Homo sapiens: one gene and its partners. The protein of the gene in region 6 purifies or fractionates together with the protein of the main gene of each other region. This does not show direct contact. Each region holds a gene or a part of one and is shown on either strand. Other genes may lie near its edges. The genes, in order: COPG2, CAND2, XPOT, TBCD, XPO4, HTR6 and EXOC2.

Region 1 (4,168 bases), on a different chromosome or scaffold from region 6:
GACAGAGTGAGACTCCGTCTCAAAAAAAAAAAAAAAAAAGAAAAAAAAAAAAGAAAAAGCACTTTTGGTCAGTTATAAAAACTTAAATAAGAAACAAAGTTTGCTCTTTTTAAAAAAAAATTAGAATACCCATTAATACCTGAACTAAATGGTAGAAATATTGACAGTTCTGAAAACAAATGGGCTTTTTAAACACCAAGGAAAACTGTAAAATGTTTTCAAAAGTTTCATACGAGGAAACAGAAACTTTAAAAAAAAGCAATAAAGAACTATTATTAATAAACTATGTACATATAAATAAAATTCTTTCAAAAGTTTTATATGGAGAAATAGAAACATTAAAAAAAGTAATAAAGTAAGGAACAACTAAAATAAACTATCTACATATAAGCTATCAGAATGCAAAGGCTATATATACACAGAGCTAGTGTTCAGAAAACATTCTTAATACCTATTCTGTAGACCTATGAAACTTAAAGCAAAAACTTAGGAACATAAAAGCCAGCCATCAAATATAAAACAAACCTGAAACAGCAGGTGCCAACTCTCTTGCAGTGCAGTTAGGAAGATGGATGATAGCTGAAGCAGCTTCATAAATAACCATTTCATGTTTATTTCGCAAGCAGCTCTCAATGAAATCAAACAGTGGACTTTCATGGCTGCCAATAAATATTTATAGGCCATTATTTAGATATCAAATAGAGAGGCAATATGCATAGGGATTAAAAGCACAGGCAGATTGAGAGGCACTTCTGGAATGGTGGATGAGGGATTTCTAAAAATTCATTTCATCACAAAGCAATTAGAACACTGGCAAAATTGTCAAAATCAACTTTTGCAGAACTCTAAAAAATTAATCAAAGATTTGCAACAATCCTGAACATCTATTTAAGAAAAGTAGCTGAATCTTAGTAAAAATGGTGAAGTTTCTGGTGTTTTAACCTACTCATTCTCAATTTCCATGCACCTCTTCCCAGTTCCATAGCAGTCTTGGAAACCAGCAGCCTCAGAACCACAGTAACTGTGAATGCCAGCAGCCTAGCTACAAAAGCAGCTCTGGGCCAAAATCTCATCCCCAGAGAACTGTCACTATGTGACCTGTCTGGTGCTCCTAGAAAAGCCCTATTCACAGGCTAATCTTTACTTCACCTGACTCAAGAGCTCATTCAGCATGAAAAGCCCTATGCCCAGGGAGTTTGTCCAAAAAAATCAGTAGTATTTGGTTAATCTTGCAGCTGCCAGAAGCAGCAATTTTAGCAGGGGCAAACAAGAGGCTGGCCAAAAAACTTAAAAGGAAAATTTGAGAAATGAGATGTCCTTAGGGGGCTTTGAAAATTTCTAAAATATTTCTGGGGATACAGAAGGTCATGTGCATGTGCAGGGCTAAGCAAACAGCCACTAAAGACCTGACAGAGCTCCGCTCTCTAACCTTTGCTTGACTCTGAGGCTCTGCACAAAGCAGGAAGTGAAGGCTAAGGCAGAGCTGTGAACTCCCGGGGCATGGAAAGCACGCCCCAACATACACAGCACCCGTTGGAAAATGATGGGAGACATACTGGTTTAAAGCATTTAAGAAAATCTGTCAAATTATTATTTGTGACTCAGCTAATCAAACAAAGACTTCAGTGTCTATACAAGATACAGAATAAAGACTACAGAAATAGTCCAGGAAGGTCACAAACAACAACAAAAACAACAAACCCCAGGGATAGGGAAAGGGAAGGTCTGATTACCAGTGTTGTCACATTATAATATTTAAAATATAATGTTTCTGACAAAATAATTATGAGACACACAAAGAAATACTTAACTATGACCCATCTATGGGGGAAAAAAAGTAGTCAATAGAATTTATTCCTGAGGAAGCCCAGATGTTGAACTTACTGGCAAAAACTTTAAGTCAGCTAATATAAATATGTTCAAAGAACTAAAGGAAACTAAAATATTTAATTTAAAGGGAAGTACAACAAGATGTCTTATGAGACTACCAATAAAGTGACAGAAATGATTTTTTTTTTTAAGAAACCAAATAGAAATTCTAGATTTGCAAAGTGCAATGACTGGAATGAAAAATTCACCAGAAAAAGTTCAATAGCAGACTTGCACAGGCAGATGAAAGAATAAGAAAACTTGTAGATCTACTGAGATAAACCAGCTGATGAAAATAAAAAAAGAAGGAAGAAAAATGAACAGTGCTTTGGAGACCTGTGTAACATGACCAAGGGTACCAACATTTTGGATGATAGGAGTTTTCATAGGAAAAGAGAGACACAAAGGGGAAAAAGAACATAAGAAGAAACCATGGCTGAAAACCTCATAAGTTTGATTTAGAAAAAACATTAATTTATGTACCCAAGAGGCTCAAAAAGTCTCAAGCAGAATAAATACAAAAATATTCAAATATATACACATCAGAGTGAAACTGTTGAAAGCATAAAAATAGTCATTCTGACTGGTGTGAAATTGTATCTCATTGTGGTTTCGATTTGCATTTCTCTAATGATTAGTGATGTTGACCATTTTTTCATATGCTTGGTACCATCTTGTACCAGTCAGAATAGCTATTATTAAAAAGTCAAAAAGTAACAGATGCTGGTGAGGTTGCAGAGAAAAGGGAATGCTTACACACTGCTGTTGGGAATGCAAATTAGTTCAGCCACTGTGGAAAGCAGTTTGGAGATTTCTCAAAGACCTCAGAACTACCATTCAATCCAGCAATCCCATTACTAAATACGAACCCGAAGGAATATGAATTGTTCTTCTTAGGTTTTGATGAGAAGGCGAGGATTAAAGAAAGACTGAGAGAGAGTTGGCGGCTCTACAGCAATGCAGGTTTTATGTCCAGCATAAGACCTGCAGAGGCGGGGCACCAGCTTAATGCCAGGGCCCACCTCTGCTTACAGGCTGGGGCAATTTTAGGCCTGGGAGGGAGGGGTCTGAGGGTTATGGCTTGCTGCCCGGGAGGATGTTGATAAGATGTTCCCATGATGAGGTGGTTTGGCCCTTGTTCTGGCAGGATGTGACAGTGATGTTCCTTGGACTTTTTCCCAGCAGAATGTGATAAGAAAGTCAGGCAGTCGGGCAGGATGTTTCTCACGGCCCAGTCCCCCAAGGAATGTTTCACTTTGATCAAGGTCTATGAAATGACAAGGGGCTTACAAAATGGTACAGTTTGGACTAACAGTTCTACCATAAAGACACAGGCCCTCCTATGTTCACTGCACCACTACACACAATAGCAAAGACATGGAATCAACCTAGATACCCAACAACAGTGGACTGGATGAAGAAAACGTAGTACATATACACCATGGAATACTATGCAGCCATAAAAATGAATGAGATTATGTCCATTGCAGCAACATCGATAGAGCTGGAGGCCATTATCCTAAGCAAATTAACACAGGGACAGAAAACCAAATACTGCATGTTTTCACTTATAAGGGAAGCTAAACATTGAGTGCACATGGTCACAAAGAAGGGAACAATAGGCACTGGAGCCTACTTGAGGGTGTAGGGTGGGAGAGGATGAGGATAAAAAAACTACCAACTGGGTGGTACCAAGAAGTTTGAGATTATGCTAAATGACCAAACCTAAGAATAACTGGTGTTCCCAAGGAAGAAGATAAATCTAAAAGTTTGGAAAACTTATTTGAAGGAATAATCAAGGAAAACTTCCCCGGCCTTGCAAGAGACCTAGACATCCAAATACAAGAAGCTCAAAGAACAGCCAGAAAATTCATCACAAAAAGATCATCACCTATGCATTTAGTCATCAGATTATCTAAAGTCAAGATGAAGGAAAGAATCTTAAGAGCTGTGAGGCACAAGCATCAGGTAAGCTATAAAGGAAAACCTACCAGATTAACAGCAGATTTCTCAGCAGAAACCCTACAAACTAGAAGGGACTGGGGTCCTATCGATAGCCTCCTTAAAAAAAATAATTATCAGCCAAGAATTTTGTATCCAGTGAAACTAAGCTTCATAAATGAAGGAAAGATAAAGTTCTTTTCAGATAAACAGATGCTGAGAGAATTCGCCACCACCAAGCCAGCACTACAATAACTGTAGAAGGAGTCCTAAATCTTGAAACAAAACCTTGAAATACACCAAAATAGAACCTCCTTAAAGAAAAAAATCTCACAGGGCCTATAAAACAATAACACAA
Region 2 (4,168 bases), on a different chromosome or scaffold from region 6:
CTTGTTTAAACAGATGGCTGGGCCCCACCTCCAGAGTTTCAGAGTCAGGAGGGCTATATCTAGGTGTGGCCTGATAGTGTGCATTTCTAGCAAGCTCCCAGTTGAGGCTGATACTGTAGGTGGTCCAGGGAGCACACTTGGAGAACCTCTGCCTTAGAGGCTTGCTTCTCAAAGTTTGGTGGTGAGTTAGCATTGGCAATGCCACTCGGGAGCTTGTTCAGGATGTGGAATCTCAGGCCTTACCCTACCCTAGATCTACTGAGCCAGGATCTGTAGCGCCACAAGGTCCCCAGGTGATTCCAATGCACAGGAAAGTGTAAAAACAGCGGCACTAGACGCCCTCGTTCTTGGCCTTAGTTGCCATCACCTGGGCCTCTAAAAAATGCCTACCTGGGCACTGCCCTCAGAGAGTCTCAGTTAATTGGTTTCAGATGTGGCCTGGAGGGGGTTGGGGGAGGGCTTTTAAAATTCCCCAGGTGATTCTAACATGCAGTCGAGGCTGACAACCTCTGCCCTACCTGAGTGGTTCTCAGACATTGGTGTGCATCAGAATGCAGATTCCAGGGTGCTATAGTCTCATCCTCTGCCCCAGCTCCCTTCCTGCTCCATCCCCTGAATCTGAATCCCTGGGCAGGGAATACAGGGTTTCAACAAGAGCTTCAGGTGACTGCAATGCACAATGGTTTTCTTTTTTCTTGATTTTTATTGAGATGAGGTCTCGCTCTGTTGCCCAGGCTGGAATACAGTGGCGTGATCATAGCCCACTGCAGCCTCAAACTCCTGGGCTCAAGCGATCCTCCTACACAGATGAGATTACATATTCAAGCCACCATGCTTGGCTAATTTCTTTTTTCAGTGTCTCGCTATGTTGCCCAGGCTGGTCTTGAACTGCTGGCCTCAAGTGATCCTCTTGCCTCAGCCTCCAGAATAGCTAGGACTACAGGCATGTGCACCATGGTTTTCAAACCTTGGTTCTCTCAACTTCCTTCTCCACAGCTCCTCTATCTACGTAATCATGGAGTCCTCCATCCTACCTCCTATAGCACTGGTTCCCACTAGGAGTAATACCACCTTGGCAATTTATGGGGGTCCTTGGTCATCAAAACTATTGAGTTAGTACTTCTGGCCTTTAAGGGGTTGAGAAGCAGGAACGGCAGAAAGACAATAATGTAAAACAAAGCACTGTCCATGCCCCGCAAGAGGTTCTAACATCCCAATGGGCATTTGTATAGGCAAAAGGCCTTTCTATAATTATCTGAGTCTAAAATTTCATTTTATACATAGACACAAAATACTTTTTTACATTGTTTTAATATACCACATTTTAGATTTTCTAAGAATGCAATTTTCAGGTAAATTGAAGGAAAATTCTACTTTGTTTTCTGGGAAACTTTATTGGGAGATGGTCACTCACTTTAGAAAATCCTGGCTGGGTGTGGTGGCTCATGCCTGTAATCCCAGCACTTTGGGAGGCCTAGGCAGGCAGATCACTTGAGGTCAGGAGTTCAAGACCAGCCTGGCCAACATGGTAAAACCCCGACTCTACTAAAAATACAAAAATTAGCCGGGTGTGGTGGTGCATGCCTGTAATGTCAGCTACTGAGGAGGCTGAGACATGGGAATCGCTTGAACCTGGGAGGGGGAGGTCACAGTGAGCTGAGATTGCACCACTGTACTCCAGCCTGAGTGACAAAGTGAGACTCTGTTTCAAAAAAAAAAAAAAGAAGAAAAAAAAAAGAAAATCTTGCCACTAAGAGCAATGGCCTCCAATTCTGAAACCTGAGTCCCCAACACCCCCTGTCTGTATCTGTACTCATGATGAGTTCACGTGTAGATGCAGGCTTCTCGTGACTTCATCACTTCTACCATCACAGTGCCCAAGCACGCATACATGGAAACACACATTACTATAAACTACATTCCTTCTAGTTTGCCTTTATGGTTATGGTTAGGGCATTATGTGTAGAGGTAGGTTTTATAATGTATGAATTTCATTTCCTAATAGGAAACGGTATTACAAACTATTTGTTATAAAAAGGTATTGGTTCTGCTGGTGTGAAACCCATCCTAAGTCTACTCCATGACCAGAAAGACATTCCCAGCTCATAAACTTGTCCATGTCACCTTCCTACATAAAACCCTTTACTGAATTCTCTCTGCTCTTGGGATCACATTGCAAATTCATTAACATGCCCCAGAAGAATGCCTGGACCCAGCTCACAGACAGTGGTTTGAGAGACAGTGCCCAATTCTCTCACCCTGTTGTCCCTTGATCCCTGGCATTCTATTTAAAATTACCCAGGTGATGCTAACCTGCAGTCAAGCTTGACAACCTCTGCCCTACACTAGTGGTTCTCAGGTGTGGGTGTGAGAATGACCCTACCACACAAGCATCCCCACGTGCTCTGCACATACCCTTGTCTTGTCTTTTTCTACTCGAGATAACTGGCCAACGTCTCAGGATCACAGCCTCACAGTGATCTAAGGCTGGGGCTTTTAGGACCTCTCCCAGTCCCATGTGCCCTAAGCCTTTTTTGTTTGTTTGTTTTTGAGATGGAATTTTTGCTCTTGTTGCCCAGGCTGGAGTGCAATGGCGCAATCTTGGCTCACTGCAATCTCTGCCTCCTGGGTTCAAGCGATTCTCCTGCCTCAGCCTCCCAAGTAGCTGTGATTACAGGCACGCACCACCATGCCCGGCAACTTTTTTTTTTTAATTATTATTTAGTAGAGACAGGGTTTCACCATGTTGGTCAGGCTGGTCTCAAACTCCTGACCTCAGGTGATCCACCTGCCTTGGCCTCTCAAAGTGCTGGGATTACAGGCATGAGCCACCGCACCCAGCCTTTAAGCCTTTACCACCTTGATGTGTGTCAGCTTGACCTTCCCAGCATTTACATCTGTCTGAGGGCTTTCTCTGGCTGGAGGTGGCAGGCAGTGGACAACCCTCCATCCTACCCCAGAAGCAGCCCTTAACCAATGACTACCAGGGAGCTGGTGGATTAATACCCCAGCTCCCTTACCCTTTGAGTGGGAAAAGTCCAAGGGACATGTCCTATACTGTGTCCCAGAGGTCCCCATGGGGTTAAGCTCATCAGGCCCACTGTGGTCACTTGCTTCGTACCATACCCTTGATTGGTCCTCTTCCCTTTCCTGCCTCACTTCCCTACTCCTCTACCATGTTTCCTGGGAGCGCCTCCCAAATAAACTTAGATTTGAATCCTTGTCTCAGCATCTTCTGGGAAAACTCAGACTAAGGTACCATTCAACGAGAGCTGCTCAGCAGGTCTCCTCTGCGAGGCTGTACCCCAAAGGGACAGCGGTCCCCAGGATGCTCCCACACAAGGTAGGGCCCCCTCTCCTGCTCCACCGAGGCTGACACTCACCACTTGACAGCCAGGTTCTGCACCTCACCGTTCTTGTCCTCCAGGAGCCGGAGCAGCATCTTCACCACCTTGCGCTCGCTGTCCTCGTCCAGCTGGATGGAGTCCTTCTGCAACTCCGACATCAGGTCGCTGGTGGCCATGAACCTGCACAGGGAGGGTGGAGGAGATTGCTGAGCAGCTCCTGGGCCCTGGTGGATTTGGGCAGTACCTCAGGGTTCCCCTAGAAGTAGACCTTAATACAAAGATTCGAGGTCAAATGCAGTCCTGTGTCACATAATGATGTTTTGGTAAGTGACAGGCAACATATACAATGGTTGTCCCATAAGATTATAATGGAGCTGGCCGGGCGCAATGGCTCACGCCTGTAATCCCAGCACTTTGGGAGGCCGAGGTGGGCAGATCACGAGGTCAGGAGATCAAGACCATCCTGGCTAACATGGTGAAACCCAGTCTCTACTAAACAAAATACAAAAAATTAGCCAGGTGTGGTGGCGGGCGCCTGTAGTCCCAGCTACTTGGGAGGCTGAAGCAGGAGAATGGCGTGAACCCGGGAGGCGGAGCTTGCAGTGAGCCAAGATCATGCCACTGTACTCCAGCCTGGGCGACAGAGAGAGACTCCGTCTCCAAAAAAAAAAAAAAAAAAGATTTTAATGGAGCTGCCCTATACAGGCATGCCATTTTAATCTTTTCTACCTTATTTTTACTGTACCTTTTCTATGTTTAGACACACAAATACCACTCTGTTACAACTGCCTACAGTACTCAATACAGGTTTGTAGCCTAGG
Region 3 (4,168 bases), on a different chromosome or scaffold from region 6:
CTGGCCAATTCTTTTTTTTTTAAGATGGAAATACATTAGTATTTAACAGTAAATATCTTTAGGTAGTAGAATTATGGGTATTTTCTCATTTTTAATTTTTCCATATTTTCCACTTCTCCATGGCTCCTTTGTATTATGTATTGAGCAAAAAGAATAAAACAAAAACTTACCTGTTTCAAAATATGAAGATAATCGTAACAAAATCCAATAATATTAGAAGAAATATCATCATCCTCATGAATTAGTAGCTGCAACATCAGTGCCACTTTTGTTTCAATAGCTTGTAGTGCCTCTTGAGCATTCTTAATATCCCCATTCTTAATTAATTTACTCCAACTAACTATCAATGACTGTCCCATTCCATTTACCAACTTAGAAAATCTGGCCAGGAAGTCAACATCTTCTTCCTATAAGCAATCAAGACACATCTCTGTTTAAAACTGCCTGCCCAAGCTAAGAGGAAAAACTGAACTTTAATATGAATCAAGTGCTAATTACAGGATTCAATTTTAAAATGACGTCATATATTTAACAATTCCAGGCTGGGCACGGTGGCTTATGCCTGTAATCCCAGCACTCTGGAAGGCCGAAGTGGGTGGATTACCTGAGGTCAAGAGTTCGAGACAAGCCTGGCCAACATGGTGAAACCCCGTCTCTACCAAAAAGGTAAAAAATTTGCCGGGTGTAGTGGCATGCGCCTGTAATCTCAGCTACTCGGAAGGCTGAGACAGGAGAATCACTTGAACCCGGGAGACGGAGGTTGCAGTGAGCCGAGACTGTGCCACTGCACTCCAGCCTGGGCAACAGAGTGAGACTCCATCTCAAAAAACAAAACAAAACAAAAAATCTCAATTCCACTATGAACAAGTTGTGTCAGCATCTCCTAAGAGTTTGTGAGAAATGTGCAATTACAGGCTTTCAGGTTTAAGAACTGGTATAACCCATTCTCCAAGGAGAATGCTACTGAGAACATTTTGGCTAGATGCAGTGGTTTATATTATAATCTCAAGGGGAGTTTATAACATTTAGAAGAAAAAAAGCTATTATTATATTTAACTTAGTACCTATCCCAGTTTGTTCTAACAACTTTACATACAATGTTTTATATAAATTTACCAACCTGGTCAATGCTGAAAAACCCAGCAGACTGTAATACTTGACACAAAGATTCCACTAGTTTCATTTTATCAACAGGGTCCATTCCTTTATTTACAACTTCAAATAAACAGTCACATGCTTCTTCCCGTAGAACTTCTATTGACATATGACCTAGCAGCATATTTATAAACCTGGTAATGGGACAATAAAATTGTAACATTTTCAAAGTCATGAGTTTTAGATACTGTATTTTACAAGTTTATACTATAAAAATAATAGGCATACTTACCTATCATTGGCTATAAGGGATAAGTCTATCCAAGAGACATAAGCCCCAACTACTTCAAGGCACTGACACGTCACTTCAGAATTAGTAAACTGATAATTTTGTAATATTTGGTACCATGATTCCACCAGATTTGGAATGCACTGTTCCCTCATGGTATCTTTTATGAGAGTATTCCTACGAGCCTCCTAAAATACAAAACGCCAAATGCAAAGTAGATTACCTTACAAAATCATGTTTGATATCTGAATATACTTGCAGAGAGTAAACTTTCAGACTTGTTAACACATTCCCTACCAGTATTTCCTATTTACCAGCTCTAAGATCATATCCTGTGATTCTTTGTATTTCCTCTTTCTGTTCTACTCCTCAGTGTCAGAGTTAATTTCTTAGTAAATACAAACTATAAAAAGCACTGCTTAGAAATCTTAAGCATATTTTAAGTTATTTCTCAATATAGTAACATAGTACTTACACTATGTGATGAAGAATACAGAAGTAGCAACACGGACAACTCCTAAGCAATGCTTCTTCCTTGCTCAGGGACTATATAGCAGTATTAAATTGAGACTACCTTTCTCAACAGATTCATAAAAGAAAATCAACTCGTGTATGTCACTACAGTATTTGCCTAGTTAAAAAAAATTTAGGCTGGGCGCAGTGGCTCATGCCTGTAATCCCCACACTTTGGGAGGGCAAGGCGGGCGGATCACCTGAAGTCAGGAGTTTGAGCACAGCCTGGCGAAACCCAATCTCTACAAAAAATACAAAAATTAGCCAGGCGTGGTGGCATGTGCCTATAATCCCAGCTACTAGGGAGGCTGAGGTGGGAGAATCGCTTGAACCCAGGAGGCGGAGGTTGCAGTGAGCCAAGACTGTGCCACTGCACTCCAGCCTGGGGAACAGAGCAAGACTCCGTCTCAAAAAAGTAAAAAAATAAAAAATGTAATGTAATACTTTAATTTCAATATACCTCTGGAAAAAAAATAACCAAGTTTGAGTTCCTTCATAAAATAAAATCCAAAACATCAGGTAAATTTATAATTATATAACTTAAGAAAGTTTACCTCAAGAAAGAAAACTTCCCTGCTCTTTTTATTATGTGCCCATTATCACCTACAAAACTTACATTAAATATAAAAAATTCATGGTTAGTTACTTGCCTCTGATGTATGCACCACATCACGATCCACCAACTCTGAATCAATAGCCATGAGGATTCGCAGGTAGAGATCTACTCCCCTTGGATTTAGGTCCACTACTGAGAGAATGTCAAAAAAAAACTTGGGCCACTTAGTGAGATACTCTGTAACAAAAAGCAAGGCGAAGACTTGGGCGGCTTTATTTCGTATAAAGGTCTTCTCTGGTTGGGGATTCAGCATCTGACAAACAGAGAAACAGTCCATAAAATTAAATGTAAATTGAAAAGACCCAGAAACACCAGTTGTCTTATTAAAAGGCAAAGTTTCATCAAATGTCAACATGGCCCAGATAAACTATGCAACAAATACTCTTCAAAATTATTTTGATAATTATGATTATCAAAATTATCAAAAGTATTTAAGTGATTGACCAGATGAAGAACAATTAAATGAACCATTAAAGGCTGTAATGATTATTCCTCATTCTTACACTTTGACAGAAAAGTTTCATGTGCAGAGTTTTAATAGTTCCTATAATTTCTTCTAAGAAGAAAAAAAAATTTTCCTCTACTTGCTCTTTAAGGAAAATGAAAACTCTAGCTACACAACTGCTTTATGTGTTAAGATTAGCTAAAATTAACTGAAAAGAACTCAACTGGCCCTTTATAAAGGGCTCTGGTGGAGAGGCTGTCCAGGAGGGCTCACCTTTAAGAGCCAAACAGAAAGCAGCATTTGTCAAGTAGTTAAAAACAACTACATTTTAAAACCAAAGTTTCCACAATGTGTCATGGAAACTATGACCATTTCAGTCATTGATATAATATTAAATTATTGCTAAACTACCACTTCCATGATCTTTAAAACCAGCACCTTTTAAAAAAGCTATGAAATCAAATGGAGGAACACTGATGAAAATCTTTGAGGTAAAGTTCCAAACTCTTGCAAAAAATAAGTTTAAATATCTAATAATTTGAGGTACTGAATGAAATTATGATTTTACCTGAGCTTGCAGCCATGATATGAGCGTCTCCCTAATTAGCTGTTGTTGAACAGTGGTTAGTTCTGAGTATCTGTTCAAAATAGAGAAGAAAAAGAATAATGGCTATATTTGGTGTCTATGGTTGTAAAAAATAACAGCCTCATATATTTGAAAGGGAAAATTTGTATAGCTCTCAATTATCTGAAGTTCCCTAACATAAACTGATAATGCCACTCATCATTGCTTTAAAGATAAGGACAAGAGTGGCAGGTAGGGCATCAATATCAATCTTTAATTTGTGATTCTGTTCATGTTGAAACAAATGATGGCTACACAATTTTTCGAATGAAAATGTTTTGTGGTCTGTGATCTACAGAATAAACCAATAGGTGAACTAGGAATCCTCTCAGTAGTGATTTGTTATTTTGCTTAATTAGTAAGTCAGAGATTCTGAACACAAGTGCCCATGCAGCTACTTAACTCTAAGAGAGAATTGTCATGTAGAAAAACAGGCCTGGTGTTACCAGATATTCTGACTTTTCCAGAAAAGCTGGAAATCTAGATTTTTCTGTGAAATATCTGGATTTTCATTTTTTTTTTTTTTTTTGAGACAAGGTCTTGCTGTATTGCCCAGGCTGAAGTGCAGTGGCACCATCATGGCTC
Region 4 (4,168 bases), on a different chromosome or scaffold from region 6:
TAGCCTGGGCAACATAAAAAATTAAAAATTAGACAGGATGGTGGCACATGCCTGTAGTCTGAGAGGATGAGGCAGGAGGGAGAATCATTTGAGACCAAGAGTTCGAGGCTGCAGTGAGCTGACTGCATCACTGCACTCTAGCCTGAGTGACAGAGCAAGACCCCATCTCTCAAAAAAAAAGATTTCCTTCCTAAATTGGTAGTGTTATTCATTACCATATTTACGGAATCAGTCATTAAATATGTTCATTTATATGACTGTCCTCTGACATTTATGAGGAATAAGTGCCTACAAACCGCAAGGGCCCAAATTCATTAACACTTCCCTGAAGCTCAGTGATACCACGCCTTCCGGAGAAATCCTAACCTCAAACAGAGGAGCTACAGAGGCCTGCGTGTCCTTGGCAGCTCACCCGCAGTGTCCTCTCGCTGGCCAAGGACTTTCCCGCCAGACAACAGAAATGCGCCTCGCCACTACGAACCCCAAGCCCCACCCTGAGACGGCTGTGAGTACTTCCATAGTCAAAACTGCCAACAGTGAGCCTCTGGGCCAGCACACAGACACCCGCAAGCTTGTAAGAAAAGCAGACTATGAGCACAGACACCCGCAAGCTTGTAAGAAAAGCAGACTATGAGCAGACACCCGCAAGCTTGTAAGAAAAGCAGACTATGAGCACAGACACCCGCAAGCTTGTAAGAAAAGCAGACTATGAGCACAGACACCCGCAAGCTTGTAAGAAAAGCAGACTATGAGCACAGACACCCGCAAGCTTGTAAGAAAAGCAGACTATGAGCACAGACACCCGCAAGCTTGTAAGAAAAGCAGACTATGAGCAGACACCCGCAAGCTTGTAAGAAAAGCAGACTATGAGCACAGACACCCGCAAGCTTGTAAGAAAAGCAGACTATGAGCAGACACCCGCAAGCTTGTAAGAAAAGCAGACTATGAGCAGACACCCGCAAGCTTGTAAGAAAAGCAGACTATGAGCACAGACACCCGCAAGCTTGTAAGAAAAGCAGACTATGAGCACAGACACCCGCAAGCTTGTAAGAAAAGCAGACTATGAGCACAGACACCCGCAAGCTTGTAAGAAAAGCAGACTATGAGCACAGACACCCGCAAGCTTGTAAGAAAAGCAGACTATGAGCACAGACACCCGCAAGCTTGTAAGAAAAGCAGACTATGAGCACAGACACCCGCAAGCTTGTAAGAAAAGCAGACTATGAGCACAGACACCCGCAAGCTTGTAAGAAAAGCAGACTATGAGACCCCCGCCTAGACCTACTTGCTCAAAATCTATAGCACAGCAAAATTCCCAGGAAATTCATCTGCACATTAAAGTGTGAGAAGCACTTCCATTTCCACAGAGTCTCGCTCTGTCACTCAGGCTGGAGTGCAACAGCATGATCTCGGCTCACTGCAACCTCTGCCTCTCAGGTTCAAGCCATTCTCCCGCCTCAGCCTCCCAAGCAGCTGGGATTACAGTCATGTGCCACCAAGCCCAGCTAATTTTTGTATTTTTAGTAGAGACGGGGTTTCACCATGTTGGCCAGGCTCATCTCGAACTCCTGACCACAGGTGATCCACCTGCCTCAGCCTCCCAAAGTGCTGGGATTACAGGCATGAGCCACCGCACCCGGCCTGCTTTCTCCTTGTAAGAAGTTTTTCTGATTTAGTCTCATCTCCACCCCATTCCCTTCCTAGCTACACAGTGCTTCAATCTATTCAAATGCAAGATGCTGAATATCCTGACACTGTTTCAGCCAAAGAGCCCACATCACTAAATTCTGATCCCCAACATACAGTAAAAAGGGACAGAATTAAACCCACAACTTGTGTCTAAGAACTATCTTTCTTGAGAAATAACATTTTGGAGGGTAACCTCTGGACCAAGTATATTACAAAAGTATCTGTCAACTCTGAAGTGCTATGGAAATGTTACCTTGGTGATGATGTAAAGAAATTTAAAAGCCAGATGTACAAGGGAAGCTGGAGATGTCTGATCTTGCACTATGTCCAACAACAAGTTCATCATCCATTCTAGGGAAAAACATAGGAAACATTTACTGTAAAAGTGAACATCAACATGACATTGAGGCCGGCCAGGTGTGGTGGCTCATGCCTGTTTTCCCAGCACTTTGGGAGACCAAGGTGGGAGGATCATTTGAAGCCAGAATTTCAAGGCGGCAATGAGCTATGATCCTACTATTGCACTCCAGCCTGGGCAACAGAGCAAAACCCGTCTCTTTTTTTTCTTTTTTTTTGAGACAGAGTCTTGCTCTGTCCCCCAGGCTGGAGTGCAGTGGCGTGATCTCAGCTCACTGCAACCTCCACCTCCCGGGTTCAGGCTATTCTCCTCCCTCAGATTCCCAAGTAGCTGGAATTACAGGCACGCGTCACCACGCCTGGCTAATTTTTGTATTTTTAGTAGAGACGGGGTTTCACCATGTTGGCCAGGCTGGTCTCGAACTCCTGACCTCAGGTGATCCACCCACCTCGGCCTCCCAAAGTGATGGGATTACAGGTGTGAGCCCACCGCACCTGGCCCAAAACCCTGTCTCTTAAAAAACAAAAACAAACAAAAAGACATAGCTAGGTTAAACGTAAGCAAAAGGAAAAAGATATTCCAACCAATCACAAATCATAAAAGAGCTGGAGTGGCTCTGTTAATATCAGACAAAGTAAATGTCAGAACAAGCATTACCATCAGAGATAAACAGAATGTTTCATGATAATAAAAGGATCAATTCATCATGAAGACTTAACAATTCTGTAAGTATACACACCAACCTACAGAGCTTCAAAATAAGCACAGAAGAAGCTGAGAGAAATGAAAGGAGACACGGTTGAAAACTTCGACACTCCTGTTTCAGGAACTGATAGAACAAGTAAGAGAAAATCGCTGAAACCTAAACAGCACTATCACCCACCTTACTTACGTGACATTTAGAGAACAATCTACCCAACAACAGAACAGACATTTTTCTCAAGTGCACGCGGAATGTTCAACAAAACAGACCATACGCTGGGCTGCAAGTCTTCATACATGGAAAACAACTGCAACTGGCATCCGGGAAACGCAGAGAAGGACACAACGAGATACACTCCCTGAAATCAGAGAGACTGGCAACGCTGAGTGCTGAAGAGAACCCAGAGCAGCTGGAATCCTCATACCTTGTTGGTAGAAATGGTCAACAGTACAATCTTCATGGCATCAGTATGGCAGGTGATGAGTCACACACTTTTTTTTTTTTTGGAGACAGAGTCTCACTCTGTGACCCAGGCTGGAGTGCAGTGGTGTCATCTCAGCTTACTGCAACCTCTGCCTCCCACATTCAAGTAATTCTCGTGCCTCAGCCTCCTGAGTAGCTGGGACTACAGGCACCTGCCACCACACCCGGCTAATTTTTTGTATTTTAGTAGAGATGGGGTTTTACCATGTTGCCCAGGCTGGTCTTGAGCTCCTGAGCTCAGGCAATCCACCTGCCTCAGTCTCCCAAAGTGCTAGAATTACAGGTAGGAGCCACCGCGCCTGGCCAAGTCATACACTTTCTACAAGTAAGACACTTTCTGCTACTCAGCAATTCCACACATGCGTATTTTCCCAAGAGAAAATAAAACCTCTGTCTACCTAAAAACTTGTACATAAACATTTTCACAGTAGCATTACTTTTTTTTTTTTTTTTTTTGAGACGGAGTCTCGCTCTATCACCCAGGCTGGAGTGCAGTGGCAAGATCTCGGCTCACTGCAACCTCCACCTCCCGGGTTCAAGCAATTTTCCTGCCTCAGCCTCCCAAGTAGCTGGGACTACATGCGCACACCGCCACACTGGGCTAATTTTTTGTATTTTTAGTAGAGATGGGGTTTCACCGTGTTAGCCAGGATAGTCTCAATCTCCTGACCTCATGATCTGCCCACCTCAGCCTCCCAAAAAGTAGCATTATTAATAACAGCCAAAAACCGGAAACAACTCAAATGTCCATCAACAGATAAAAGAAGAAACAACCCCAGCACTTTGGAAGGCTGAGGCGGGCGGATCACGAGGTCAGGAGATCGAGACCATCCTGGTTAACAAGGTGAAACCCCGTCTCTACTAAAAATAAAAAAAAAATTAGCTGGGTGTGTTGGCGGGCACCCGTAGTCCCAGCTACTCGGGAGGCTGAGGCA
Region 5 (4,586 bases), on a different chromosome or scaffold from region 6:
GTTGCCAATGTGCCAGTATGAAGAGGTGGGGCCTTTAAGAGGTGATTAGGCCAAGAGAGTTCCTCCCTAATGAATAAAATTAGGTCCCATTACAAAGGGGCTTGAAGGAGGGAGTTGATTCTCTCTCGCCACCATCTGGTGATGGCTTGCTTGCCTCTTCCACATGATGGAAGTCAAAGGGCAGCCTCCAGAAATGAAAGAAGTAAGTTTCTGTTCTTCAGTCTCAGGTATTCTAATAGCACAGAGTAAGATAGTTGAATTAAATAGAACAGACTAAGATAGTTAACATAAATAGATCCATTTTCTCATTTTTTAAAAAAAAGTACAGTAAATAATATGGTGAAGTCTACCCCAATATCCCTAGGGTGGTTGTGGTTAGGGCTATAACGTAGTATCAATATGAAGATATTACAGCATGTATTTAAAAGCAATTGACTATTAGGTATCAGACTTAGTGTTATGATACATTTGTCTAATGAAATGAAATCTGTTTTCAGAAATAATCTTTAAATACAATGGAATTTATTGAGCATCTACTATTATATTTCATCCATCACTTTTAAATTTTTTCTTTGGGAGGAACACTTATAAACTCATGATATGGATAACAGACCTGTGGAAATTAATGTAAGCCCTAAGCAGCTTAGTTAGACATTGAATCTAGGTCTGCCTCTACCCTGCAGTCTACCAGTTCAAGTAGCTTTACCAGGTCAGTCCTTAGAAATAACCATAACATCCAGGGCAGTGCAGTTATAAACAGGTGTACAAATAAGAAGTTCTACTACTCAATACATCTTGGGCTTTCTTAAAGGTGTATTTGAAGCCTAAGATTAGGCAGAAATGAACATTATCAAAACAAGAACAAAACTGCTCACTACTGTGGGAATAAAAATGTTTAGCAGATCCTATTTGCTTTTGTTCATTCATCATCTCTGGGAAACATCAATGACTTACCTCAGTTCACTCTCATGCTATATATTAAAAATAATTTACAGGGACACTCAGTAGGAGGTTGAATTATACGCCAGACTGAGACAGGATGCTGCTGGGGGTGCTGTATGGAATTTCCCAGCAAAAGATTCTTTCATTAGTTTCACCAAATATACCATTTCCACTTAGTTTTAAAAGAAAGTCAAACTGAACTGCCATTTGAGATTACATAGAATGCACAAGACTCAATCTGAGACCCTATGTTTAAAAAAACAAAACTGTTTTATAATCTAATCAGCCTGTCAAAGGCATCACTCATAAGCAACCGAATTGTATTTTTGGAGAGCACCATTAAAGATGTCTTTTAAAAAACAGTTATAGATGTGTATTTATTTGGGACCTTTGAAATCATCTGTGGGTCTCAAATGACAGATGATTAGCCTGTGTGTATGGCCCCACACTTGGTAATGAAAGAAACAAAAATTCAAAATACACTCTAATTGGTTTTCTTAAACAACTTTTCTTTATCCACCTTTGGAGTGGAATAAATCTCAATATAAGCTAAATAACAACATTACAAATCAAAGAATATTCAAAGCAAATTCAGGTTAAAAATGAACATTTTAAAGATGCATTTTCTTTAAAAATTAACTTTTCACTTCATATGTTTACAAGATTTAACACTGGGCAAAGGGTGGATCTATCTAGCACACAGTAATATGGTAATTCACCACTTTCCCTGAAAGGCCAAAAAGAATGACTTGCTAAAAGTATTTACTAAATATGCACCAAAGATAATGACTTAACTAGTAACTGTGAAACTGTTTCTAAGACTGTGGGCTGAGATAAATATTATAAAATATAGACAAAATTTTTATATTTCTAATACTGGATATTCTGTGAGTACCACGGGTTCTCCCAGAAGGTGATGCAAATCTTGATTTTTATCTGTACAGATGTCTTCATTTTTTTAAATTTAAAATTATTTTAGGACCGTGTAATGTCCCCAGTGTCAATCTTCCTATAATGGTAAACAAACTAGCACCATTTCAATGCATTTCATAAAAGAGTCTAGCTAAATACCCATGAACAAATCACACATGGTCAAAACAAAAATGTAATAAAAATATTTAGTGAAAAGACACATTTTAACTCCCATTTATGAATTTTAAAAATACAAATAAAATTTTATCAACCTGATATTCAGCCTATAACTGGCTCAATACATAGCCTTATTTCCTAAAATCATATTGCAGCATCTTCTGAAAAACTAAATGCAATTTTATACCTTCATTAGTTATGTTAATAGAGGTAAATATTTAAACAGTACACTCATCCCTGGGTCTTTAAATAAAACTGAAAAGTCTTAGTGTAAGTTTAAAATTTTAATATTTATAAATTTAAAAAATTTTACACGTGCTGAGTGGTAGCAGTGCTAACATTTTTGTGACCATTAAACCACAAACTCACTGCATAGAGCTTCTTTCTTTGTACAGATAATCAAATCACAATACCAACATTTGCAATTTGTAATAATTTTATGTGGTAAAAGACACCACACCAGGAAGCCTGGGCTCAGAAAACACTTGAGGTCAGATCCCTAGTAGGTACATAGTGCAGATGCAGTATATAATTTCAGGCTAGGAAAATTAGCTACTAGTATGTATCTGACAGTTCCTAATAGCTAAGAGGCCTAAGAATGCAGACGGGGAGAAAAAAAACCAAAACCAAAAAAAAAGACACCTCTCCAATTGCTGGGAGGGCCTGGGAATAGGTGAAGATCAAACCACAGTGGGAGAGGAGGGTAAAGATGTGAGCTTCAAGCGGGTAATGGGCAAGCCACACCTCCCAGTTCCTAGGAGGGAATCGCCACGGCCGACTTCAGCATTCTCGTCTTTACTAAGACTTACCCATAGAGAACTACAGCAGGAAACCGATTTCTTCATTCATTCTCTTTAAAAAGTATGAATGCCCAGTATTAAGCTTCTATTTTTATTTGAACCAAACATATTCTTTGGTTAACTATGTCATGGGTTCTCACTATAATCAACAAAGCATACTTCATATATTTTATATCTAAATGAAAATATGCTTAAAATTCAACTGGAACCATGGCATTTCACATCAATTTGAGCTCAGCAATATGCCTAATTTGGACATTTTAATTTTAGAAAACCAATTTTTAAAAATTCTTAAATGCAGTGTTTTCAGAACATAGTTACCAAGTCAGAGAATAACCACTTATATTTTAAAAAGATTAAAACATTATTATATCCTCAAATCAACAATGTTTTTTTGTGGGAAAGCTTACAGAAAATTATAATGTTAAACCTCATAGCCAAATCAGTTCCTTATTCTCTGGTTTTAGAAAACACAAACAAACCTTAAGAAGTACCGAGGTTCCTTCTGACTTAAAAGGTTAATGTTTTATTCAGGAACCAATAACAATAATTCCTCATCAAAGACAGCTAACTTAGTAAGGTCAATTGACAACCACCTCTAACAACAGAGGTGGCAAACAGATAAAAATTGTTTAACAGAGAAAAATATTATTTCAGGGTTCAGAATGATGTTGAATACTAGGAGACTCAAACTTGTAATCCTTGAAACTGACAGCTAGTTCCCTTCAATACTTTAGGGGTTCATAGAAGTATTAACAGAAATGGGAAACATGGTGATATTACAACTATAAAGACTTGACATTTTTGTTAAAAGAGAAAGTTCAAAGACAGTTAAGGGGAGTGTTAAATAATGCTGACTGGGGGGAAATGATATAGATACTTGCTTTTCAAATGAAAATCATGGACAAGTGGTAGTAACCATCCCATCTGAACAGAGTAATGTAATATAATTAGATACACAGTTTACAACGAAATAAGACTAAATTCTTAAAATTAGTTTGAAAAAAACCTGCAGTTTGTTTACATTAAAAGTCATACTTTACACCAGACAAAAACTCAATGCAGTGATGTTAACATGCTACTGTCTTCTAACAGAGATGGCCACCCTGAAAGACCCAAATAATGGTGCTGGAAAGGACACTGTCAAATACTGTCAGGTAGTTTTGCTACTGAGGCAGCCACTCATCCAGCACAAGGACTATAAAAGCAAATCAATCCTTTTAACAGAACAAGAACACAGTTACAGGTGCTACCACATTAACAGACTGTGAAAGTACAAAGTCTTTAGTGATTGTGCCTTGGGAAATAAATGGGTCAAGGAAAATAAAATGAGAAACAAACAAAGGATGTATGGAAAACTAGAGGTTAAAGGATACTATATGAACAACAGAAATTTTATAAAACAAAAATCTAAAAATGAAATACTTGACAGTGTCCCTTTGACATATATAAAAGAGGGCACAAATAATGTTTTTGTTTTAAAAAATATTTTAACAACAGTTTTAATAGAAAAAAAATCAACTGACTTGAATTAAGCCAGTGTTCTTGACACCCACTGGGCCAAGAGCATTAAAACAAAACAAGACCGGAGAAGTTAATAAACACAGCTAAAGACAAAATTGGACAAAATAAAACAAAAGAAAACACAAAGTGAATAAGCATCCAATCAGGCAAACATGGACACAACCACCCTGAAAAGGTCTAGCCGTTGCAACTCAGTGGCATCCCCATCACCTAAAAAATGGTAGTGGCTTC
Region 6 (4,168 bases):
CCCTGAGGTGGTGGGAAGACCTAGTGGAAATCACTAAGCCAACCAGTGGCCTTTTAAAAGCCCATTTCCATAAATAGACATATGGAGAGGGGATGAAATGCTCAAGGCTGACCAGCTCCCATGTTCTGACCCCAGAGGAACTGGGGCCTCGAGACCTATGCCCAGCTCCTTTCCCTCTGCAGGGAAGCTAGAGAGTGGAATGGGGCAGGAAGCCAAGGCTAAGTGGGGCTGGGCACAGGAAAAGGGAAGGGGTCCAAGACACCCACATCTGATTCATTCTCATCACTTCCTTTAGGTCCAAACATTGAGGGGGCCTCCACCTCCAGGCCAGCTCTGGTGGGAAGAAAGAGGCGGTGACCCAGGAGGGCCAATGCAATTTCTCAGATGCATTTTCCCAAAGTGCAGGCCGTTCACCAGGCAATCAGGAAAACGGCCTGCAGGAGGCTTACTTAAGGAGCCGAGTGGATTTGAAAGCAGGAACAGAGGCAGAATTTGCACACGTCACGTTCAAACCAAGAGAATGGGCTTTCCAGAAAGCGGGGGGATTAGAACAGACACATTTCTGGCTTGAGAGGCCCCTGAGTCACTCTGCCTTAGAAGTAAGGCGCTGGCCTAACCAACCCATGAAGACCCCTCCAGCCTTTCACTTTAGGGCTTGGTGTGAGTGCTTTGCTTTCATCTTCAAACATACACAGTGAATAATAGATTTTGAATGTTTGCTGGGTGAAGCATCCCTCCTATAAGCTCCATAATCCTCATCGTGGTACAGTTTGATGATTAATGTCTGTACTCCTAACTAGAACAGATTTCAAGAGGGCAGGCACTGTTGGTCTCGTTCACCACTACATACACAGCCTAGAACAGCTGCTGTGCAAAGCAGGTGTCAATACATGTCACCAAGCAAATGAATTCACACGATAAAAAGTTCAGGATCATGACACTCAAGAAGTGACTCTGAAAGGCATGAGAAAACAGGCAACCGCACAAACAGGGCTGGAATACCAGGCTCCCTGAAGCACTGTGTACACTGCATTCCTTCCATCAATACATACTGAGCACCCATGATGTGCCAGGTGCCCCTAATTCCTGGGACCATGGGGGAAAACAGAAAGACAGGCCAGGCATGGTAGCTCACGCCTGTAATCCTAGCACTTTGGAAAGCCAAGGCGGGTGGATTGCCTGAGCTCAGGGTTTCAAGACCAGCCTGGGCAACACAGTGAAACCCCATCTCTACTAAAATACAAAAAATTAGCCCGGTGTGGCGATGTGCACCTATAGCCCAGCTACTCCGGAGGCTGAGGCAGGAGAATTGCTTGAACCTGGGAAGCGGAGGTTGCAGTGGGCCAAGATCACGCCACTGCACTCCAGCCTGGGCGAGAAAGTGAGACTCTGTCTCAAAAAAAAAAAAAAAGGCAGAAAAACAAGTTCCCCACCCTCATAGGCCTAAATTCTAGAAGAAGGAAATAAACAGTAAATAAATAAAAATGGGTAGGTATAGAACACGTCAGGGGGTAGGAGGTGCTGCTGAGAGAAATAACTTAGGAAATGAGGACTGGAGAGGACCTGGGGAGGGTGAGAGGTGCTACTCTTGAGAGAGGGATTAGGGGAGGCAATTCAACAGAGGCTGGAAGGAAATGATGGAAATTAGTGGGAGAACAGGGTGGAGACCTGAAGAAAGGGCACTCCAAGCAGAAGGAACCGCAAGTGAGGCAGAATGGGCTTGGTGTGTTCAAGGAACAGCAAGGAGGCCAGTATGGCTGAAAGAGAAGAAACAAGCAGGATTATAGAAGGAGAGGAGGCCAGATAGGGTCAGAGGGCCAGGTGATGTGAGACACAAGGCTGCCAGAGCAGAGGAATGATGCAGCAGGAACTGCATTGTAAAGGGGATCATTGGGGCCACTGCGGAAGGTTGAAAGGGAGGAAGAGCGGAATCAGGAAGTCAGGGCCAGGCGCAGTGGCTCACGCCTGTAATCCCAGCACTTTGGGAGGCCGAGGCTAGCAGATCACGTAAGGTCAGGAGTTCGAGACCAGCCTGGCCAACATGGTGAAACCCTGTCTCTACTAAAAATACAAAAATTAGCTGGGCGTGGCAGCACGTGCCTGTAAGCAGCCCAGGTAGGAAGTCATCAGCGTGTGGGTGGTATTTTCAGTTACGAGACAAGATGAGGTCACTAACGGGGCAAATGTGGAAAAAGGACGAGATGCTCCGAGGACTGAGGACTAGGGATGCCATGGCTCAGGCGGATCAGGAGGACCCAACAGAGAAGACCAGAAGGCACAGAGAAGAAAAGGGGCAAGGTGTGGGGTCCCCGAGCAAAGCATTTCAAGAGCATCACTGCCCACAGGCAGCACACCAGCACAGGGCGATGGCACCAGCCAGATCCGAGCTTAAACCTCACTTACCAACTGTGCAATCTTGGGCAAGTCACCTCTCGCTCTGAGCCTCAGTTTCCCCACCTGTCTAACAGGGGTGCTGGTAGTACTTGACTCATTGGGTGTTTGGGGAATTAATAAGTTTAGCTCAGTGCCTGGTACAGAGTGAGTGCTCACAGATTGTGGGGCTGCAGCTGTTAGCACCTGGGAGACTCCTGCCCAGGTTCCAAGACCACAGACTCAGGTTCAATCCTAGTACCAGCCAGCGAGATTCATGGAAAGAAAATCTGTGTGGTACTGGCACCGCTGCAACTAGGAATCCTGATCTCTCCCGCCCCAACCTCACCCAGACCAGCCAACTTCTCACATCCTTAGTCACGAGAGCAGAGCTTCCTGAACTGTGGGAATGGAGATGATTTTAGATGGTAAAGGGACACCCCATAAAATGAGTGAATCACAGAGTGAGCACGTCAGCCCATTACAGCTGTCTTCCAGCTCTTCTAGGTGCGTCAAGAGAAAGTCCCACGTTGATGCTACCATGTTTGTAATACCTTCTAGCACGCTACAAAGAGAAAGCAGGCCCTAGGCTCATCACCTCAACCACACCAAGCTGCATTTCAGTGATAGGGCTGGAGCTTCTTCAGTTTCACTGAAGTGGTGTTTGTGATCACCTTCTATTTATGGCAAAGGATACAGATTTTCCATTTCTAGAGGAGATACGAAGTTTTCTTTCTACACAAATTTGTGGAAGTAAAAATATAAAAGAGATGATTTAAAGAAAATGTCAAGAATGCCAGGCACGGGGGCATGCACCTGCAATTCCAGCTACTCGGGAGGCTGAAGTGGGAGCTCGAGGCCAGCCTGGGCAATATAGTGAGACCCTGTGTCTAATAAATAAATAAATAAAATGCCAAGTGCATGTGAATTAAGTGGCTTAAGGTGTGGAGGTGGTGGTGGAAGAGGCATTAAGGAAGATATCCGCAGGCAGTTCTTGAATGCCTGAAGCTTGTGAAACACTCCTTTTCAAGAACCCAGGGAAGCCTGTAACCCTAGCACTTTGGGAGGCCAAGACAGGAGGATCGCTTGAGCCCAAGAGTTCAGTGAGTTATGATCGGGCCAGTGCATACCAGCTCTTCAGGCTGGAATGAGCTATGATCAATTCTAAGCTGCAGTGAGCTATAATCACGCCACTACATTCCAGCCCTCCAGCCTGGGTGACAGAGCAAGACCCTGTCTCTTAAAAAACAACAATAACAACAACAAAAAGCAAGAACCCAGGGTATATGGCCTAAGGCAGCCATCCCACCCCTGAAGAAGCAAGTCAGAGTCCCAGCCACCTGCCAAGACTCAAGAATGTTCTACAGGGAGCAGGGATAGGGAGAAGGAGCTGGGCGGCAGCCAGGACTCCCAGTCCATGTGGGGCCCTGCCCCCACCCCAGGTGATAGGCAGGGGCAACTTTGGGCCTCACCCACCTGGGTGGGACAGGCAAGCTTGTCTGGGGGACTGCCAAGGAGGGTGTTAGCCTTTCACCCCTCTGCCAAGTCCCCATGTGCCCAGTGACCTCCAATGCAACCCCCACCCTCCTAGAGCTTTCACCACTCAGGGCTACACCAAAAGAGCCCAGCTGGGACTTTCCTCAAGACCTGCGACCTAAGTCACTGGGTCTCAGGCCTGGTCGGTCTACACACCCACCCCTCCAGGGGGTCAATAGGAGTCAGGTGCACTGTGGCCTGGATGGCAAGAGCAGGCACTCACTTATAGACAATGCAAGGCCTTGAGCTAAGAGCACCTACC
Region 7 (4,168 bases), on a different chromosome or scaffold from region 6:
GGAATGGGAATAAAGGCCTTCCCTCCCTCTACAATGTTTGGAGGTGAGAGATTAAGGGGACGAGAATGTGCATGAGATGACTAGGAAGGAATACTGGAAGCCAGACAAGTATATAGGGAATGCCTGACAACTTAGCTCTCAGAGCCCCCATAAAAGAGATCTGTTATATATATACCGGATTACTCAGCTGTTCTCATAAAACAAGCACTGGATTCTATCTTAATTGGAAAAGTTACTTAGAGGTCTGCTTTATTCCCCCAGGAACCATAAAGCCCTCTGCCTTAGCATGCCATGTCTCCTCCTAGAGGACAAGGACTGTCACTATGTTGCACAGGGAAAGGCTGCAGGTCTAAAGGTGACTGGACTTCCAACCGATGCCACTGGACATTGATGACATGTCAAAAATGAACCAGGCCAGTGCAAATTCATCCCCCTCCATCCACCCCCAACAAATAAATGAAGACAAAAACTTCAAAGAAGATACACTACTTAATAGGAAAACAAAAGAGTTTCATACAAGAGCACAGCATTATTTATTCACAAATCTATTGCCAGTAGTACCCAATGCCCTACTACTCTTATTAGATCTATATGCATAGATAAAAACAGTAAGTCTTAGTATTTTAGGAAGTATAGTTTTTCAGAAAAAAAGATGTCAGGGTTTTATTTTCCCAGAAAGACAGATCACCTGAACAAGATTGAAGAAGTCATTATCAAATAATATTCTTTTTTTTTTTTTTTTTTTTTTTGAGACAGGGTCTCACTCAGTCACCCAGGCTGCTGGAGTGCAGTGGTGCAATCATAGCTCACTGCAGCCTCAGGTGATCCAGGCTCAAGTGATCCTCCCACTTCAGCCTCCTGAGTAACTGGGACCACAGACATGTACCACCACACTCGGCTAACTTTTTTCTAATTTTTGTAGAAAAGGGGCCTCATTATGTTGCCCAGGCTGGTCTCAAACTCCTGGGCTCAAGCTATCCTTCCACCTCGGCCTCTCAAAGTGCTGGGATTACAGGCACTGAGCCACTGAACTTATCCTCAAATAATATTTATTTGTATCTTTACCTAGTCCGTCAAGATGATTTGCGATACAATGACTAGTCACCCAGATCCTCAAAAGATGACAGTATTGGACTCCTATACCCCAGAAAAACAGAAAAACTAGGGCTGTGAAAAGGAAACATCCTTGGATTTATTCAGTCAAATAAATGTTTATTATACACTTGCTATGTCCCAGGCATTACCCTGAAGAAATGACAGGAACAAGATTTTGTGACCAGAAGCTCAAGAATGACTTTGGCCTTCAGGAGAGTGATCGTAGCTGAAACCAGACAGCACTGGGATGGGTGAGAAGTTGGCTACAAACAACTATTTTAAGAAATGTGGCAGGAAAGTGAAAAAGAGAGGAATTTTAAAAGGGCAATGTGAAATCAAGGGAGGATTCTAGTTTTTTCTGTTTTACTTTATTCTTGTCTGTCTCTAAGCATGTATAAAGGCCAACAGAAGGAAGGCTTTAGTAAGACATGAACACCTGAGTGAAGTCCTCACAAAGGCGGGGTAGATGGGATCCACAGCCCAGGTAGGAGATTGGTCTTAGCATAAATACAACCTCTTCCACTGTGACTGGGGAGGAGGAACAGTTTTTGGCAGGAAGCCCCTGCGATTCTCCACTTACATCTCTTTCATTTATGATGTAGGTGGCAAGACCGCTTGCTAAGAGTGTGTGTAAATGATGTGAAAGGATGAAAGGTTCGAAAAGCGTGAAAATGCTGAAAAGTACATTCTGCAGAGATAAGAAGCGGGTACTGATGAGGAAAATTCTGGAAGATTCCTTGATGGCCCAGCTGAGCTGGTGACCATGGATTTATAGGGGCACAGATCTGGATACTGTGATTTTCCCCAGCTGGCCCCAGCAACTCAGGTCAAGCATTACAGGAGGCAGAGAGTTGAGACTGCCCAAGGCTGAGAAGCTGCCAGGCAGATGCTACAGAACAACAACGATACAACTGAGCACACTGGCATGACAGTGACTGAAGATCACAGAAGCGCCTGATAGATGCAGTGGGGGTGAGTGAGACTGAGAAAGTTGAGGGACTATAAGCAAACAGTGGGAGGCCTGCACTTTGGATTTCAGAAGTGGACCAGTTCCAACACTGAGGCAGTTCGGTGTTACTCTTCCAGCCCCCAGCACTACTTCTCTGGCAACAGTCGGATCCTCCTCCAGACAGCCCTACTTTCTCCTTCTGTCCTTTCTGGTTACTGTTAGCTTCCCTTTGCTCCTCACCACTCCTTGTATATTCCCTAATCCCCTCTGCACCTTTCTTCATTTGAGCTATCTGGCATGACTTCTGATTCCTGCTGAGACATACATCATTATCATTCACATGGGGTTTTCATTAAAATTAAACTAAAGCCAAACATGGCCTTTTGTCTCGTTTTGTCTTTTGCTAAAATTATAATACAATGAAAGTTAAATCATATGCCCTCCAAAATCACAAACCTTTAAAATGAGAAAAGGCCTTTAAAAATTCATCCATGCTTACAAATGAAACGAAGGGGCAGCCTTGTGCAAAGTGGCACTGTTAGCAAGCAGTAAAGGGAAAAAAGCCTTCAACGCTGCACTTGTCACTGAGTGCTTAAGATGTGCCGGGCACTAGTCTTGAAGCTCTCTGGATCCACCCTGAGCAGCTCACCTTCTCCTAAGCTGAAATCCAGTCTTCCCCAGTCCTGTGTCCAGTGTTCGTTCCATTATTGGCACCAAGATTTACTGTGGAAAATATTACATAGAAAAACTGATAAACCCAAAAACAAAAATAAAGCAAACTGGATGATGTATTTTTAATCTGAAATGCTACCAAGGGAATTAAGGTAAAGGATGTTCAGGAAGCTTTTGAGCTGGCCTAATAAAACTTTCCAGGAAAAACAAACAACAAAAAAGAACTGTCTAACAAATCAGTTCCAAACTCTTCTGCCTGTCAGTCAAGGCACTCCACCCATAATCCAAAATGCACTCACTTACCAGCCCCTGGGCCTTTGCTCCTGGTATGCAGCCCAGGTGTTCACACGCCTTCCTTCATCAAGCTCTTATCATCAAAGCTTCCCAATTACTCTAGCCCCAACGGATCCTTCCTACCTCTGAGCTTCTGCTGGACTTACACTCAATACTACAGAGTTTAGTTCTTAGCTATTCTTTAATTGAGAGGGCAAAAATACCCCTTATGAATCCAGGCTAATATTATTTGATTTTTAATATATGTGTCAGGCATACAGTAAGACTGGAAGATACAAAAATAATTAAAACTAATCCCGATCCAGAATGAGCTTAGTCTTTTACTGGTGTATGTAAACACCATTAATAATATTGTCCCTAACACAACACAAGTGCTATAAGACAAGTGCTAGGTGGTTATAGGATTCACTGAGTTGGAAAATTTCAAGGCAGGAAGGATTTCAGAGATAATCTAACTGCATGTATTCTCTGAATACACAAAAAAGGAAACAGTCCAAAGCATCTAAGCAACTCAGCCAGTACTATGAAGCAGACCAGATTAGACCAAGGACCAGTGTATAGTTGCTTTGACGCCTAAGCCAAAAATACCTTTTGACTCTGTGATTTTCAAATTGAGATCAGCCAGGCACAGTGGGTCACACCTATAGTCCCAGCACTGGGAAGCTGAGGCCAGCGCATCACTTGCATTCAGGAGTTCAAGACCAGCCTGGGCAACGTAGGAAGACCTCACCTCCACAAATAATTTTTAAAATGAGCCGAACCCGGTGGCACGCACCTATAGTCCCAGCTACTTGGGAGGCTGAGGTAGAAGGATTTCTGGAATCATGGCGCTCAAGGCTGCAGTGTGTTGTGACTGTGCCACTGCACTCTAGCCTGGGTGACAGAACAAGACCCCCTTTCAATCAATAAACAAACTGAGATTGAAGGATGCCGATGCGTGTGTCACCCATCGCTTTAAGATTCATAATTTCCCGGCCCGGCGCAGGGGTTCACGCCTGTAATCCCAGCACTCTGGGAGGCCGAGGTGGGTGGATCACGAGGTCCACCGTCACGAGGATCGCGACGGTGAAACCCCGTCTCTACTAAAAATACAAAAAGTTAGTCGGGCGTGGTGACGGGCGCCTGTAGTCCCAGCTACTTGGGAGGCTGAGGCGGCAG

The links.
Region 1: the proteins of HTR6 (region 6) and COPG2 purify together in Homo sapiens (affinity purification with mass spectrometry, with the first as the bait; one large-scale study listed by BioGRID). This does not show direct contact.
Region 2: the proteins of HTR6 (region 6) and CAND2 purify together in Homo sapiens (affinity purification with mass spectrometry, with the first as the bait; one large-scale study listed by BioGRID). This does not show direct contact.
Region 3: the proteins of HTR6 (region 6) and XPOT purify together in Homo sapiens (affinity purification with mass spectrometry, with the first as the bait; one large-scale study listed by BioGRID). This does not show direct contact.
Region 4: the proteins of HTR6 (region 6) and TBCD purify together in Homo sapiens (affinity purification with mass spectrometry, with the first as the bait; one large-scale study listed by BioGRID). This does not show direct contact.
Region 5: the proteins of HTR6 (region 6) and XPO4 purify together in Homo sapiens (affinity purification with mass spectrometry, with the first as the bait; one large-scale study listed by BioGRID). This does not show direct contact.
Region 7: the proteins of HTR6 (region 6) and EXOC2 purify together in Homo sapiens (affinity purification with mass spectrometry, with the first as the bait; one large-scale study listed by BioGRID). This does not show direct contact.

What each region holds. Positions count from the first base shown.
Region 1 is NC_000007.14:130,563,735-130,567,902, forward strand, and holds part of COPG2 (coatomer subunit gamma-2), read right to left. Parts: intron 660-4,168; coding exon 526-659; intron 1-525. UniProt on the Homo sapiens protein: The coatomer is a cytosolic protein complex that binds to dilysine motifs and reversibly associates with Golgi non-clathrin-coated vesicles, which further mediate biosynthetic protein transport from the ER, via the Golgi up to the trans Golgi network.
Region 2 is NC_000003.12:12,802,847-12,807,014, reverse strand, and holds part of CAND2 (cullin-associated NEDD8-dissociated protein 2), read right to left. Parts: intron 3,528-4,168; coding exon 3,384-3,527; intron 1-3,383.
Region 3 is NC_000012.12:64,417,474-64,421,641, reverse strand, and holds part of XPOT (exportin-T), read right to left. Parts: intron 3,597-4,168; coding exon 3,527-3,596; intron 2,767-3,526; coding exon 2,548-2,766; intron 1,573-2,547; coding exon 1,388-1,572; intron 1,290-1,387; coding exon 1,121-1,289; intron 408-1,120; coding exon 171-407; intron 1-170. UniProt on the Homo sapiens protein: Mediates the nuclear export of aminoacylated tRNAs. In the nucleus binds to tRNA and to the GTPase Ran in its active GTP-bound form. Docking of this trimeric complex to the nuclear pore complex (NPC) is mediated through binding to nucleoporins.
Region 4 is NC_000017.11:82,761,837-82,766,004, reverse strand, and holds part of TBCD (tubulin-specific chaperone D), read right to left. Parts: intron 2,041-4,168; coding exon 1,943-2,040; intron 1-1,942.
Region 5 is NC_000013.11:20,776,829-20,781,414, forward strand, and holds the end of XPO4 (exportin-4), read right to left. Parts: 3' UTR 501-4,586; downstream 1-500. UniProt on the Homo sapiens protein: Mediates the nuclear export of proteins (cargos), such as EIF5A, SMAD3 and isoform M2 of PKM (PKM2). In the nucleus binds cooperatively to its cargo and to the GTPase Ran in its active GTP-bound form.
Region 6 is NC_000001.11:19,667,711-19,671,878, reverse strand, and holds part of HTR6 (5-hydroxytryptamine receptor 6), read right to left. Parts: intron 1-4,168. UniProt on the Homo sapiens protein: G-protein coupled receptor for 5-hydroxytryptamine (serotonin), a biogenic hormone that functions as a neurotransmitter, a hormone and a mitogen. Also has a high affinity for tricyclic psychotropic drugs.
Region 7 is NC_000006.12:686,446-690,613, forward strand, and holds part of EXOC2 (exocyst complex component 2), read right to left. Parts: intron 2,768-4,168; exon of another isoform or gene 2,694-2,767; intron 1-2,693. UniProt on the Homo sapiens protein: Component of the exocyst complex involved in the docking of exocytic vesicles with fusion sites on the plasma membrane.